Linked DNA regions of Homo sapiens. The protein of the gene in region 1 purifies or fractionates together with the protein of each later gene. This does not show direct contact. Each region holds a gene or a part of one and is shown in the gene's direction. Other genes may lie near its edges. The genes, in order: GPN2, TANGO6, POLR2J2 and NEDD1.

Region 1 (3,567 bases):
TTTTCTGGGCAGAAACAGGCCACTAGGGGGAAGTCCAACTTACTTCTTTTAGTGAGAAATGATTTATAAAACTGAATCAGGGACCTCAGCATCATCTAGTCCTTATTTTACATTAAGAAATAACTGGCTCAGAAAAGGAAAGTGATTTACCCAGGAGGCTACCCTGCTAGAATGTAGCATTTATTCAGTTTAACCATTTACAGAGTCTTTGCAGTGTATGTGCCAGGTCCTGAGGGTATGACCTGACTATGAGCTCTGTGAGGTGAGGACGACCATGCACAGTTCTTGGTACATACTTGTTATCATTATTTGCAACTTTTTTTTTTTTTTTTTTTTTTGAGACAGAGTTTCGCTCTTGTTGCCCAAGCTGGAGTGCAATGGTGTAATCTCGGCTCACTGCATCCTCCGCCTCCTGGATTCAAGCGATTCTCCTGCCTCAGCCTCCCGTGTAGCTGGGATTACAGGCATGTGCCACCACGTCCGGCTAATTTTGTATTTTTTTTTCTTTTTTTTTGAGACGGAGTCTTGCTGTGTCGCCCAGGCTGGAGTGCAGTGGCGCGATCTCGGCTCACTGCAAGCTCCCCCTCCTGGGTTCACGCCATTCTCCTGCCTCAGCCTCCTGAGTAGCTGGGACTACAGGCACCCGCCACCACGCCCAGCTAATTTTTTGTATTTTTAGTAGAAACAGGGTTTCATCGTGTTAGCCAGGATGGTCTCGATCTCCTGACCTTGTGATCCGTCCATCTCCCAAAGTGCTGGGATTACAGGCTTGAGCCACCGCACCTGGCCTAATTTTGTATTTTTAGGAGAAATGGAGTTTCACCATGTTGGCTGGTCTTGAACTCCTGACCTCAGGTAATCACCCACCTCGGCTTCCCAAAGTGCTGGGATTACAGGCATGAGCCACCGTGCCCAGCCTGTTTGCAGTTATTGATCAAGCACTTCTCTGTACCAGACACTGGGGTTTATAGCATTTAATCTTCATAACAGTCCTATGAAGTAGATACCTGCCTATATAGCTAGTAAATAGCAGAGCCAGCAGGTAAAACCAAATGCTTTTTTTCTTAGTAACTTCATTTTACTGTGTCAAGAAATATTTGAGTGCATGAGTGCACAAAGGAAAAAAGGAAAAAGGAACCTCGTCCTCAGGTCTTTAGCCTGATACTGGTTGCTCCTGAACACTGGTTTCTCTCTTTAGCCTTCAACCTGGACTACTACACAGAGGTTCTGGACCTCTCCTACCTGCTTGACCACCTGGCTTCTGACCCTTTCTTCCGCCACTACCGCCAGCTCAATGAGAAGCTAGTGCAGCTCATCGAAGACTATAGCCTTGTCTCCTTTATCCCTCTCAACATCCAGGTACTAGGGGCTAAGACGGGACTCTTGACAGTGCATGGGATTCACCAAGCCAAAAGCACAGGAAGCTTTGAGGGCTTAAAGAATGGTCTTTGCCGGCTGGGCGCGGTTGCTCAAGCCTCTAATCCTAGCACTTTGGGAGGCCGAGGTGGGCAGATCATGAGGTCAGGAGATCGAGACCATCCTGGCTAACCCAGTGAAACCCCGTCTCTACTAAAAATACAAAAAATTAGCTGGGCGTGGTAGCAGGTGCCTGTAGTCCCAGCTACTCAGGAGGCTGAGGCAGGAGAATGGCGTGAACCCGTGAGGCAGAGCTTGCAGTGAGCCGAGACCACGCCATTGCTCTCCAGCCTGGGCGACAGAGTGAGACTCCATCTCAAAAAAAAAAAAAAAAAAAGAGTGGTCTTTGCCCTGGGTTGAGTATCACTGAGAGTAACCTTAGTTTCAGGACCAGGGGCTGCTGTAGGGGCAGAATTCCAGTAAAGAGAGTGGACCAAACTTTTGCCCTGTCTATTTTGTGTTGCTGGATCCTCTCTTCACATGTTCTGTCCTCTGTGAAAATGGGTGAGTTCAGAAAGTCATCAGCAAGAAAGTTCACCAGGACCAGGGACAAGTCTCTTAAGCCCTTTCAACTGGGCAACTGTCTGTTGACTTTGCAAAGTGGTACCCAACCCCTGTGCCTCTCACCTTTACCCTGCAGAGATAACCTGGGAGACGCAGGTGCATGTTAGATTCCTTTCTGCAGTGGGTGGACTTGAGCTAACTTGTCTCCTCCCTTCTAATGCCACACTCTTCTGATATGAGGAGATGAACTCTATAATATCAATCACAACAATTACCTCTTATTTATGGCTTTCTGTGCTGGGCACTGTGCTAAGGACTACACATACATAATTTTGCTTTGTCCTTCCCACCATGTGATATATGGACTGTTCTTATCACTGTATGTGGATGAGGAAACAGTTATAGTTTTTTTTTGTTTTGTTTTGTTTTTTGTGACGGAGTCTCACTCTGTCACCCAGGCTGGAGTGCAGTGCGTTATCTTGGCTCACTGCAACCTCTGCCTCCTGGGTTCAACCGATTCTCCTGCCTCAGCTTCCCAAGTAACTGGGATTACAGGCATCCATCACCATGCCCAACTAATTTTTGTATTTTCAGTAGAGACAGGGTTTCACCATGTTGGCCAGGCTGCTCTTGAACTCCTGACCTTAAGTGATCTACCTGCCTTGGCCTCCCAAAGTGCTGGGCTTTACAGGTGTGAACCACCGTGCCTGGCCCAGTTATAGATTTAAAACATGCATATTCATTGGATGTCTACTTAAGAGAAGTACTGTGCCAGGCACTGGGAATACTGCGACAGATGACCTGGCCCTAAGGGGTGTTTAGTTGAGTAGGGGAGGCAGGTGAGTTAATAGGCGTTTATTACATGGCAGGGATACCATGTACAATAGGTGTAAACCCAGGGGACTGTGGATATGCATAGGGGAGCTTATCTGTTCTAATCTGAGTGAGTTGGTGGTCAGGAAACATGAGATTTATCCAGCCTTTGGGGACATGTAGAACTACTCCAGGCCAAGAAAGCTACAGGTACAGAGGCAAGATGGAGGAAGGTGTATTTAGAGATTGCAAGCAGTTTTACATACTTCTGTTTCACTCACAGAACTGTTTCTCTCCTCCCTGCTCAGGACAAGGAGAGCATCCAGCGAGTCCTGCAGGCTGTGGATAAAGCCAATGGATACTGTTTCAGAGCCCAAGAGCAGCGAAGCTTGGAAGCCATGATGTCTGCCGCAATGGGAGCCGACTTCCATTTCTCTTCGTATCCTTGCCAGCTTCCTGGCCATAGCAGAGAGGGTGAGACATGGGACTCAAGAATGGCCACAGGAGGTGCAGTCATCAACCTTGTGGATGACCAATTTCTTTTTTTTTTTTTTTTTTTGAGATGGAGTCTTGCTCTGTCGCCCAGGCTGGAGTGCAGTGGCACGATCTCAGCTCACTGCAAGCTCTGCCTCCCGGGTTCACGCCACTCTCCTGCCCCAGCCTCCTGAGTAGCTGGGACTACAGCCACCCACCACCACGCCCAGCTAATTTTTTGTATTTTTAGTAGAGACGGGGTTTCACTGTGTTGGCCAGGATGGTCTTGATCTCCTGACCTTGTGATCCACCCAATTTCTTTTTTCTTTTTTTTTTTTGAAAGGGAGTTTCGCTCTTGTT
Region 2 (3,567 bases), on another chromosome or scaffold:
GACATTATTCAGACAAAGCTTCCATGGAGAATAAAATGTTATATAATTTTCACTTCCACTTTCCAGAAGAAATCCCTTTCTTCCCGTTTTCTCTGTGATCCCTTCCAGATCTATGGTGCACTTGCATACTGACTGGCCACTTTAGATCATGTAGTTAAGAACAGCCTTATCTTTTCAAGGGAGACTGCGTAGGGTATTGGGTGAGAGTGTGGGCTCTGATCCCAGTTTCTTGAGTTCACATCTTACTATCTTCCAGTCTGTGACCTTGGGCATGTTACTTAACCGTTCTGTTTCCACCTGTTTAAAATGTAGATAATAATAGTCATTATATCACAAGGATATGAATGTGTGTGTGTGTGTTTTATCTTAGAAAAGAACCTGTATATGATAAGTGTTCAATAAATGTTAGGTATGATTATTCAACAAATGGTATTCAGTGCTGGACCCAGGCAATACACTGATTACACCATGAGCAAGATTTGATCCCTGCCCTTTTTTCTCAGAATATGTTTCCTGGTGCTCAGGTCATATTGAAATTTGCTATGTTAATTTGGGTTTGACATTTTTTATTTCATTTTGTAGTTGAAGTCAAGTGATTTTGCTGTTCTGAAGCAGTTGTTGCCTCTGTTGGAGAAGGTATCCAACACATACCCTGATCCGGTCATCCAAGAACTCGCTGTTGATCTCCGCATCACCATCTCTACCCATGGAGCCTTTGCCACTGAGGCCGTCAGCATGGCTGCCCAAAGTACACTGAACAGAAAAGATCTGGAAGGGAAAATAGAAGAGCAGCAACAAACCAGTCATGAAAGACCCACTGATGTAGCTCATAGCCACCTTGAACAACAGCAGAGCCATGAGACAGCCCCCCAGACAGGCCTGCAGTCAAATGCTCCAATCATTCCTCAAGGAGTCAATGAGCCCAGCACTACTACAAGTCAGAAATCTGGAAGCGTAACCACAGAACAGCTCCAAGAGGTTCTTTTGTCAGCTTATGACCCTCAAATTCCAACACGGGCTGCTGCCCTGCGTACTCTTTCCCACTGGATAGAGCAGAGAGAAGCAAAAGCCCTTGAGATGCAAGAGAAGCTTCTCAAGGTGAGTAGAACACACTGTAAAGACACATGGGCACAGGGTGGGGCATTCATTCAACTCAAGTATTTTTGGAGCCTGGACTATGTGTCAAGTGCTGTTCTGGACCACCCTCCAGAAATTTGTGAATTTTGTGAGGAGGCAACACTTAGACACAGGAAAGATTTATTTAGACACAGGAAAGACTTAAACTCCTCAAATGAATATGAACTGAGTGCCAATTTTTTTTTTTTTTTTTTTTTTTTGAGATGGAATCTCGCTCTGTCCCCCAGGCTGGAGTGCAGTGGTGCAATCTCGGCTCACTGCAAGCTCCGCCTTCTGGGTTCACACCATTCTCCTGCCTCAGCCTCCCGAGTAGCTGGGACTACAGGTGTCTGCCACCACCCCCGGCTAATTTTTTGTATTTTTAGTAGAGACGGGCACCATGTTAGCCAGGATGGTCTCGATCTCCTGACCTCGTGATCCACCTGCCTCGGCCTCCCAAAGTGCTGGGATTACAGGCGTGAGCCACCACACCCATCCTTCAAAATTTTTGCATGCAAGAAATGCTGTGGGCAGTCAGGAAAAAGAGAAAGTTGAAATCTTCTGGAGGATGTAGGCCTTAATATGGCCATAACAAACTAGTAAAGTTTGAGCAGATGAAAGAGGGGTGGGATAGCTTGAACAAATTCCCAGAGATGGGAAAGTACCTTTTGTGATAAATAGGTCTGCTTCAACACTGTGACCCAGCCCAGATAAGCCACCTGTTTTCTCTGGGCATCTTTAGTGGGGCGTTGGGCAAAACTGGGTCTCCTCCCCTCTTCTCTCCCTTCATCGTGGTGAAATAGCTGTTTTTTGTTTTGTTTTGTTTTGTTTTTTTGAGACAGGGTCTCGCTCCGTCGCCCAGGCTGGAGTGCAGTGGTGCGATCTCAGCTCACTGCAATTTCCACCTCCTGGGTTCAAGTGATTCTTCTGCCTCAGCCTCCCAAGTAGCTGGGATTACAGGTGCCCACCAACACACCCAGCTAATTTTTGTACGTTTAGTTGAGATGAGGTTTCACCATGTTAGCCAAGCTGGTGTTGAACTCCTCACATCAAGTGATTCACCTGCCTCGGCCTCCCAAAGTGCTGGGATTACAGGCATGAGCCACCGCGCCTGGCCTTAAATATCCTTTTATACACCTATTTGAAGGTGAATTCAATGAACATCTTGGAATTTTTTTTAGCTTAATTAAACCTTCTTCTGCTGTACATAATTGGTCACCAAGTCCTGTCAATTCTTTTTTCAAAGAAGTCTTTCAAATGTATCTTATCCTCTTTATTTCCATGGCCATTACCCTAAATTAAGCTTCCCTTGCTTACTCCATAAAAGATTCCCTACCTTCAAAACTGGCCGTCTTCCTAACTGGGGTAATTTTAGGCTCTCCGTACATACTTCACATGTAGAGACCAGCAGCATCAAGTTGATGTCAAGAATTACTGTGCCAACGAAGAACACAGCATTATATATGGAGCAGACACTTCCGTCTTCCTTTCTCTGGCTCTCATGTTGGGGCCTAAACCTAACATATCATGTAATATCTTCCAGATAAGCTGTACTCACTGTAGTTGATACCCCTGATAGGTTCCTAAATTGTAAGATATTTTGAGAGTAATTTGTTACTAATATCAATTAAAGTGCTGAAATTTACAAGATTTTCAAAAATAAATTAGAACAGATTCAAAGTTATCTCAATAATAACATCTCTATCTCACTTGCACTTCCATATGCTTTGTGAGTACAAGAGAAAAGGATCAAATTGCAGCAAATGTGCCATCCATTGCACATAACCCCAAACCTTGTCTCTTGTGTGTCACACCCCGTAGTCTGTCATGCCATATGTGAGAATGTTATTCACCATGGCTGTCATGGAAAAATGTTGAGGATTGTTCTTCCATCGGTTTCCAGGACTACTGCTGGAAGAATACAAGTATCTCCCCCAGTCTCTATACTTTTTTAATGGTTATAAAAATGAGACTTAAGCATATATGCCATTTCCCCCACAAAACTCTGTCAGACCAGTTTCTACCCAAGAAAAACAAGAAGCGAAGCATTTACTCCTTTGAGCTGCTGATAAGGGAGCCTCTTAAATCTTCCTTGTTCTTTGTAAATCTTATCACTGCTGTATTTTGTGGTTCCAGATATTCTTGGAAAACTTGGAACATGAAGACACTTTTGTATATCTATCTGCAATTCAGGGTAAGTCAGTCCTGGTTAAAGGACTTTAAGTATGTGGACCAGAGACTGTATCATGTTTATTTGCACAAAATCTCTAAAGTCCTAGGGCCAGGAGACTACTGGTCATTTTGTCCGTCTTCCTGCCTCCTAGCTAGGACACTTTAAGTCATAATAATAATATTCCTGAAGGGTTTCCAAAGAGTCCCTATAGAGTTTCAGTGTCTCATAATGATGAGGAAGTTTTTATTAATGTTTACATATTCTGTAGATTAAATCGT
Region 3 (4,176 bases), on another chromosome or scaffold:
CGGGGAAAGGGAGACTCCCTTTCCCGGTCTGCTAAGTAGCGGGTGTTTTTCCTTGACACTAACGCTACCGCTAGACCACGGTGGGCTTGGCAACAGGTGTCTTCCCAGATGCTGGCGTTACCGCTAGACCAAGGAGCCCTCTGGTGGCCCTGTCCGGGCATAACAGAAAGCTTGCACTCTTGTCTTCTGGTCACTCCTCACTGTCCCCTCAGCTCCCATCTCTGTATGGCCTGGTTTTTCCTAGGTTATGATTGTAGAGCGAGGATTATTATAATACTGGAATAAAGAATAATTACTACAAACTAATGATTAATGATTCATATATAATCATATCTAAGATCTATATCTAGTATAACTATTCTTATTTTATATATTTTATTATACTGGAACAGCTCGTGCCCTCGGTCTCTTGCCTCGGCACCTGGGTGGCTTGCTGCCCACATCCACCAAGTGCACTTTGGGAGGCTGAGGCTGGAGGACTGCTGGAGGCCAGGAGTTCAATACCAGCCTGGGCAACATAGGGAGACCCCCCCCCCACCATCTCCAAAAATAAAAAAAAAAATAGCTAAGTGTGATGGCACATGCCTGCAGTCCTAACTATCGGGAGGCTGAGGCAGGAGGATCTCTGGAGCCCAGGAGTTGGAGGCTGCATGATGGCGCCACTGTACTTCAGCCTGGGCGACAGAGGGAGACGCTGTCTCTAAATAATAATAATAATATATAAAAAGATATACGTAACCCTACGGGCTCCCCTCTCACTGCTGTATACACCTGCCTCCTTCTGCATCCCTCACCCAATTGTCCCTCCCGGCTAACAAGCCAGCTGCACCCCCCAGGCAGAGGTCCTGCAGCAGTCGGTATAGGCAGCCTGGGCAGGGGGCTTGTCATAGATCTGCCTCTGGCCACGAGATCTTCTGCTCCCCCTACGGCTGCTAGCCGCAGCTGTCCACTACCCCTTAGCTTTATTCTCTCTATTCAGGGGCCTCCTGCTGCGCACTCCAAGGGGGTGCACGTTTCCAAAGAGAGATCAAGGGACATGGGGAAAGGAGAAAGGTACAGCTTGAGGTTCCCGCTCAGCCAGGACTAGGAGGCCTCTGTAGGGGCAGAACAGCCCTGCTGGCGCTCTGAGCATGCGCCGAAAAGCGCCCACGGGGAAAGCCATGCCGGGGTGCGGGGTGCGGGGTGGGGGGGAGCGGTGCGCTCGCCACTGACGCATGCGCAGAGGCACTGGTCTCTCTCGGGGTTTTCTCGCGCCTGCGCAAGATCCTCCAGCCCAACGGGGGGCGATGAGCCGATCCTTGGGCGGGTTTGCCCCGCCGGAGTAATCCGGAAGAGGCCTCTTATTAGGGCTCTGGTGGCGGCGGTGGCGGACACTTGGGGTCTGGACGCAACGGCGGCGGGAGCATGAACGCCCCTCCAGCCTTCGAGTCGTTCTTGCTCTTCGAGGGCGAGAAGTAAGTGACGCCGGCTGCGGAGGGCCTAGGTGCGCGGGCCTGCGGCTGTCGCATTCTGGGGTGTCTCCTGCCCATCTCTTGCCCCGGGAGGGAAACAGCTTTTGCTTGATCGTCTGCTCGGCCTGTGTCAGCCAAATTTAAGGCCGTTCCGCGAGGCAGTCGCGAGTGTGTCCATGTTGCAGATGAGGACACTGAGGCTTGGAGGCGAGCAAGTTGCCCCGGACACAGGAAGTGGCGGCGCTTGTATTCGAACCCAGAGTGTCTGGTTCTCCATAGCCCTTTTCCTCTGGGATCTGGCAGCTTCCTCTTTTTGTCTCTCGCCCGCCACCTCCATCCTTCATCCCCTCCGATCTGTCAGCGGCCTGCGTAAAAGCCGCAGTGGCTCCTCGCTGCCTGCGGGTTGAAGGAGTCCAGGGGAGAGAGCTTGGGCTCACTCTGTATCTGTGGGCGAGTGGCTTGATCTGTCGGAGGCCCTGTTTCCTCATCTGGAAAATGAGTTTATTACTGTACTTAAACGTGGGATTCAGGCCGGGTGCGGTGGCTGACACCTGTAATCCCAGCACTTTGGGAGCCCGAGGCGGGCGGATCACCTGAGGTCGGGAGTTCAAGACCAGCCTGACCAACATGGAGAAACCCTGTCTCTACTAAAAATACAAAATTAGCCGGGCGTGGTGGCAGATGCCTGTAATCCCAGCTACTCAGAAGGCTGAGGCAGGAGAATCACTTGAACCTGGGAAGTGGAGGTTGAGGTGAGCGGAGATCACGCCATTGCACTCCAGCCTGAGCAACAAGAGCGAAACTCCGTTTCAAAAAACAAAAAAAGGGATCTGGCCAGGTGCGCTGGTTCACGCTTTTAATCCCGGCACTTTGGGAGGCTCAGGTGGGAGGATTGCTTGAGCTGAGCACAGGAGTTCCAGGCTGCAGTGAGCTTTGATCGCATCACTGCACTCCAGCCTGGGCGACTGAGCGCAATCCTGTCTCAAAATAAAAAGAATTGGATGAGGTAATTTGTGTAAAACTCTTGGTCCAAAGCTCAGCCCCTGGAAAACCTCATAACCATTGGCTCTTATTGTTCCCAGGTTGGCGTGCAGAGGTCTTGGTCTGGCCCTTGCCAGCCACTTCGGCCTCCTTTAGAGCAGACTCTCAACTGGGGACCATTTGGCCCCACAAGGGACATGTGGCAATAACTGAGAACATTATTGGTTGTCAAAGGGGGTTATGACTGGAATCTACTGGGTAGAGGTCAGGGATGCTGCTGATGTCCTACAATGTCCACAAGACAGCACCCCACAGGAAAGAATGATGCACCCTAAAATGTGTGTGGTGTCAGCCTGGAGAAACCACCTTAGAAAAAAGGATATTCAACTTGATACCTCTCACCTGTGTGAGATTTTACTGTCAGCATAGTTGCCCTCAAATTGAGTGTGCATTAGAATCACCTGAAGGGCTTCTTAAACCATAGATCCCTGCGCCCCACCTCCAGAGTTCTGGGTCCAGTAAGTGGGAGGTGGGAGACTCTTAACAAGTTCCCAGGGGATTCTGATGCTGCTTATCTGGGAACTGCACTCTGAAAACCCCTTGTCTTGGAAAATCCAATGGAAGTTTCCTGTCTTTGTCCATCTAAGCGTTCACTAAAATCATAGTAAATGCCAGAGCATGACTTGTTTTGGGGAATGGATGGAAGGACTGCACACTCCAGCCAGGGGGATGGTTGCTTTCGGAACTCACAGGGTCAGGACCAGCCTCACCGTGTAACTTCAGGGCCTCTCTTCTTCACCTTTTGGTTGCTTCATTATGTTGGCGTAAGAAGAAAGGAACAGGCCAGGCATGATGACGTGCGCCTGTGGTCCCAGCTACTCAGGAGGCTAAGGCGGGAGGATCACTTTAGCCGAGGAGTTGGAGGCTGCAGTGAGCTATGATCACACCACTGCACTCCAGCCTGGGCAGCAGGAGAGATCATTTGAGGCGAGGAGTTCAAGACCAGCGAGGACAACAAGGCAAAACCCCATCTCTACCGGAAAAAAAAAAGGAGGAATTCAGAAAAGGCCAAGGTTCCATAGACCTGGGGTAGCAGGAAGTAGGGGACCGGGTTGGCGAGGCCTTTATGGGATGAAGAGATTGAGAAAGGCCTTCAGGAAGAGGCAGAGCTTATTTTTCCTTTTTATTTTTATATTTTTGATACAGAGTTCCACTCTGTTGCCCAGGCTGGAGTGCAGTGGCATGATCTCGGCTCACTGCAACTCCACCTCCCAGGTTCAGGTGATTCTCCTGCCTCAGTCTCCCAAGTAGCTAGGACTACAGGCATGGATCACCACACTCAGCTAATTTTTTTTTTTTCTTTGTATTTTTAGTACAGACAGGGTTTTGCCATGTTGGGCAGGCTGGTCTTGAACTTCTGACCTCAGGTCATCCATCCACCTCAGCCTCCCAAAGTGTTGGGATTACAGACACGAGCCACCACACCTGGCCGGGAGGAGACAGGGTTTAGACTCAGGGTGGGAGGAGGGGAGCCCCTGCTCCTCATCTGTGGCCTCTGTGTCTTCCTAGGATCACCATTAACAAGGACACCAAGGTACCCAAGGCCTGCTTATTCACCATCAACAAAGAAGACCACACACTGGGAAACATCATTAAATCGTAAGTTTCCCGTCACAGGCTCTCAGGGGCTATGTTTAATGGGCCCCTCTGGGCAAAGCACAAGTTCCAAGTCTTCCTCAGTCTC
Region 4 (3,567 bases), on another chromosome or scaffold:
GTTTTTGCATCTACATTTGGGTATTTGTGGATCTGAACTGAAAATTAAAGACAGAACTTGAAGGCAGAAGCAAGTTGGGGAGGAGATAAAAAATTGCCCAATATCTCCATCTTACTAATGTACTCTCCATATCTTCCTTCCTCTCTGTGTGTGTGATGAAAATTACATTTCCTAAACAGACATAGTAAAGTTACCTAGATTGAACTTTTCTAAGCTTTTTATGTTTCTGATTGACACCTTCCCTGTCTTGGTGAGCTCCTCAATGTGGATAAAATAAAATGAGGGAGTGAAGACTGTAAACTAGGGTTTCTGAACCCTGTGCTATTGACTTTTTGGGGCAGAAAATTTGTTGTGGACCTTTCCTGTATGTTGTACCACGTGGAGGTTTATTGGTCTTCACCCGTTAGGTACCAATAGCCTCTAGTTGTGACAACCCAAAACGTTTCCAGAATTGCCTGAATCACTCCCAGTAGAGAACCACTGCTGTGACCACAGTGCTCCTATCACCTTTTATGTGAAAATGTTTTATGTAATTGGTATGTTAGAAATTTTCTTTTGTGAAACTCATACGCTATTTCTTAACAAATTAAGATTTAACATTTATCTGATTTTTATCAACACCAAAGTATTCTACTTTCTGATAAAAAAATCAAAGCTTTAAAATGTGACTGGTTCAGGAACAAAAATATTAAAAGTTTTATATGACTTACTATTCTTGCATGTATATAACAAGAAGGACAAATTTTCTTACTGAATTAAATTTACCTCCTTATCATTCCTTGATTTTGCAGTAAAACAAATTACTTTGGTACTCTGTTAATCAAACTCATGGTGAAGTGACTACATTTTTGAAGGACTTTCCAGATGTGTAATAGGGAAAATATTTTAAAGAGAGCGACAAGTATATGAAGTTGCTGTTCTCTATTTTTAGATTTTCATTATGTTTAGAGCTTAATTTTCCCTCTTACTATATAAGAGAAAGGTAGCAATTTGTAGTAAGATTATTTTTTGGTTGACTTTTGTTTTAAGTTTTACTAGGAGTTGGCATTTACTGATGTGCTACTTAATAGTCTAACAACAAAACTGATGTAGCTATGAGATAGTGTTGTATGACTTTTGGAAATTGGTCTTACAGTTTTCTTGCATGAGCAGATGTGCACTGAAAGCCTTCATACAGTCTTATTCTTAATAAGGCTTTGATCACTTCCATGGAGGTTAATTACTGAAGAACAAGGAGTTCCCAGCCTTAGCAACTTGGGGTCCACATAGTATAGATTCCAAGAATGGGGTTAATGTGAGACACCAGAGAGATTAGTTTTTTGTTTCTTGTCCTTTAACTTACGTTCCTCACTTTCTCATGATTTCTAAAACTACAAGAGAAATAAAAAAGAACTAGATTACCCACCCACATTATGTTTCAGTCCTTTTTTTTCTATATTCTAAGGAGAAAAGTAGTGGTAAACAGGAAGAAGTCAAGGAAAGGGAAATGGTTTTTCTCGCTATGGTAATATCTAGGTAGGAATGATTTGATTTGCATCATGTATCATAATAAAATTACAGTCTATGCTCTGTTTACAAAATACCTGAAAGTTATACAGAACATTCAAAAGTTAATGCAGTTAGGGATTCTGAGTGTCTAATTAACCTTTCTCCATTGCTTTTACTCACAGATTTTAATTGCTAAAAAGCACAGATTTAAACTTCTGATATTTTAATTTGTTATGGCTCTCAAAATCAGACTCTTATTCTTAGTTATATTATTGTATTTAATCATTTTAGTTTTAAAATAGTTACTGTTTTGTGTTTACTGATTGTTCCATTTACAATTCGTGTAAAAGAAGGTAAATAAAATTACATTTTATTTAAAAATTAAAACTCATAACACAATTCCTATTTAACCATACATATTTATAAAATATTTGCAAGTTACTGTAATAGTCATTCTTAATTTAAGATTGAAACATTCTATCACAAAAATTCATGTTCTGGGAAAATATCAGGCCTTTTTTTTTTTTAAATAGAAAAATAGGAGACTAGTGTGGATGTTTGCTTCCTAGTTTAGATTGTTACCAAGCACTAGGTTAATAAATATCTTGAACAGTTTCTGTAGATGAAAAGGTTGATTGATATTTGCTGATGCTGCTTTTATCATGCTCTCATTCTTGAAGGATAAAATTAGCCCTTCTGGCCTACTCTTTGAAAACAGAGTAGTATTTCACGTGGGTTAAATAGCTTTTGAGTGATAGCAGAGCCAGAAAGAAGGCTAGTTCTTCCCTGCAGTAGTAGCAAAGAGAATTAGTCTTAGTAATTATTAATAGTAATGTGAGCCATTTTTGAAAGCTACTCTGTAAGCTATACTCATTGCTTGTCTTCTTAGTGTGTTAGCTTTTATAATCGCAATTCTTATAATAGTCTAGTGCTATAGATGTTCATGGATTGTTTGATGCTCCATAACTCCTCATTTAGATAACTTTTTAGTAACAGCATCTTCCAGTGGCGACAAAATAGTTGTCTCAAGTTGCAAATGTAAACCTGTTCCACTTTTAGAGCTTGCTGAAGGGGTAAGTGATTTTTTTTTTTTTTAAACTTTTAAAAATCTTAGTTTTGCTTGACTGGCAATTGCTTATTGTGGTGCTTGCGACTAAATATAAAGGTTTTTAAAAGCATTATTTTTAACTTAAGCTCAAAATAATATAGTAACACTTAAAAATGAGATATGTGTACTTACTAAAGTATTTTTAGGTAAAATAGTTTTGAATATAGGGGAACAATTGAAGACTTGAATTTTGTTGACTAGGCACTTCATTTCTCCATTTTCCCTCAGTGGGAGAGGATCTCTGTTGCTGCTATTTTAGGACGATATCCCACATAGGTTACTAGGTTGACCTGAGCATATAAACTCTAATGACACAGCACTGCTTTACTGATCTTGGGCTCAGGACCATCAGGAACAGACTCACAGCTGATGGTAGCTCTCTGCTTCAGATTCTGTCCACCTGTACTGAGGGGCCTGTCTGAGCCTCCCCCATACTCTCCTTAAACAGGTTGGCTTTGTCAAAATGAGCTTAGGTCCCAGGGCGTTTAAATGAAGCTCTCACTACGTACTGTTGCCTTATCCTTTTTTTTTTTTCTTTTGAGATGGAGTCTCGCTCTGTTGCCCAGGCTGGAGTGCAATGGTGCAATCTTAGCTCACTGCAACCTCCGCCTCCCCAGTTCAAGCGATTCTCCTGCCTCAGCCTCTCAAGTGGCAGGGATTACAGGTGCCCACCACCACGCCTGGCTAATTTTTGTATTTTTAGTAGAGACGGGGTTTCACCATGTTGGCCAGGCTGGTCTTGAACTCCTGACCTCATGATCCGCCCGCCTCAGCCTCCCAAAGTGCTGGGATTACAGGCATGAGCCACCACACCCAGCCTATCCTTTTGTTTTATAAGTTAATCCCTCTGATTAAGGATAATACTGGCTTCTTCATTTCTAGTCACACACTCTTTGAAAGCTATTTCTTTTTTAAATAAGATAAGATTTAAATAAAAAGATATGGTAGTTGATAGCTTTTTTTTTTAATTT

Evidence for each region.
Region 2: the proteins of GPN2 (region 1) and TANGO6 purify together in Homo sapiens (affinity purification with mass spectrometry; one large-scale study listed by BioGRID and IntAct). This does not show direct contact.
Region 3: the proteins of GPN2 (region 1) and POLR2J2 purify together in Homo sapiens (co-immunoprecipitation; one large-scale study listed by IntAct). This does not show direct contact.
Region 4: the proteins of GPN2 (region 1) and NEDD1 purify together in Homo sapiens (affinity purification with mass spectrometry; one large-scale study listed by BioGRID and IntAct). This does not show direct contact.

Annotation. Positions count from the first base shown.
Region 1 is NC_000001.11:26,883,765-26,887,331, reverse strand, and holds part of GPN2 (GPN-loop GTPase 2), read left to right. Parts: intron 1-1,198; coding exon 1,199-1,359; intron 1,360-3,041; coding exon 3,042-3,172; intron 3,173-3,567. UniProt on the Homo sapiens protein: Small GTPase required for proper localization of RNA polymerase II and III (RNAPII and RNAPIII). May act at an RNAP assembly step prior to nuclear import.
Region 2 is NC_000016.10:68,926,986-68,930,552, forward strand, and holds part of TANGO6 (transport and Golgi organization protein 6 homolog), read left to right. Parts: intron 1-582; coding exon 583-1,098; intron 1,099-3,252; coding exon 3,253-3,310; intron 3,311-3,567.
Region 3 is NC_000007.14:102,668,830-102,673,005, reverse strand, and holds the start of POLR2J2 (DNA-directed RNA polymerase II subunit RPB11-b1), read left to right. Parts: upstream 1-1,342; 5' UTR 1,343-1,404; coding exon 1,405-1,454; intron 1,455-4,001; coding exon 4,002-4,091; intron 4,092-4,176. UniProt on the Homo sapiens protein: DNA-dependent RNA polymerase catalyzes the transcription of DNA into RNA using the four ribonucleoside triphosphates as substrates. Component of RNA polymerase II which synthesizes mRNA precursors and many functional non-coding RNAs.
Region 4 is NC_000012.12:96,910,257-96,913,823, forward strand, and holds part of NEDD1 (protein NEDD1), read left to right. Parts: intron 1-2,466; coding exon 2,467-2,561; intron 2,562-3,567. UniProt on the Homo sapiens protein: Required for mitosis progression. Promotes the nucleation of microtubules from the spindle.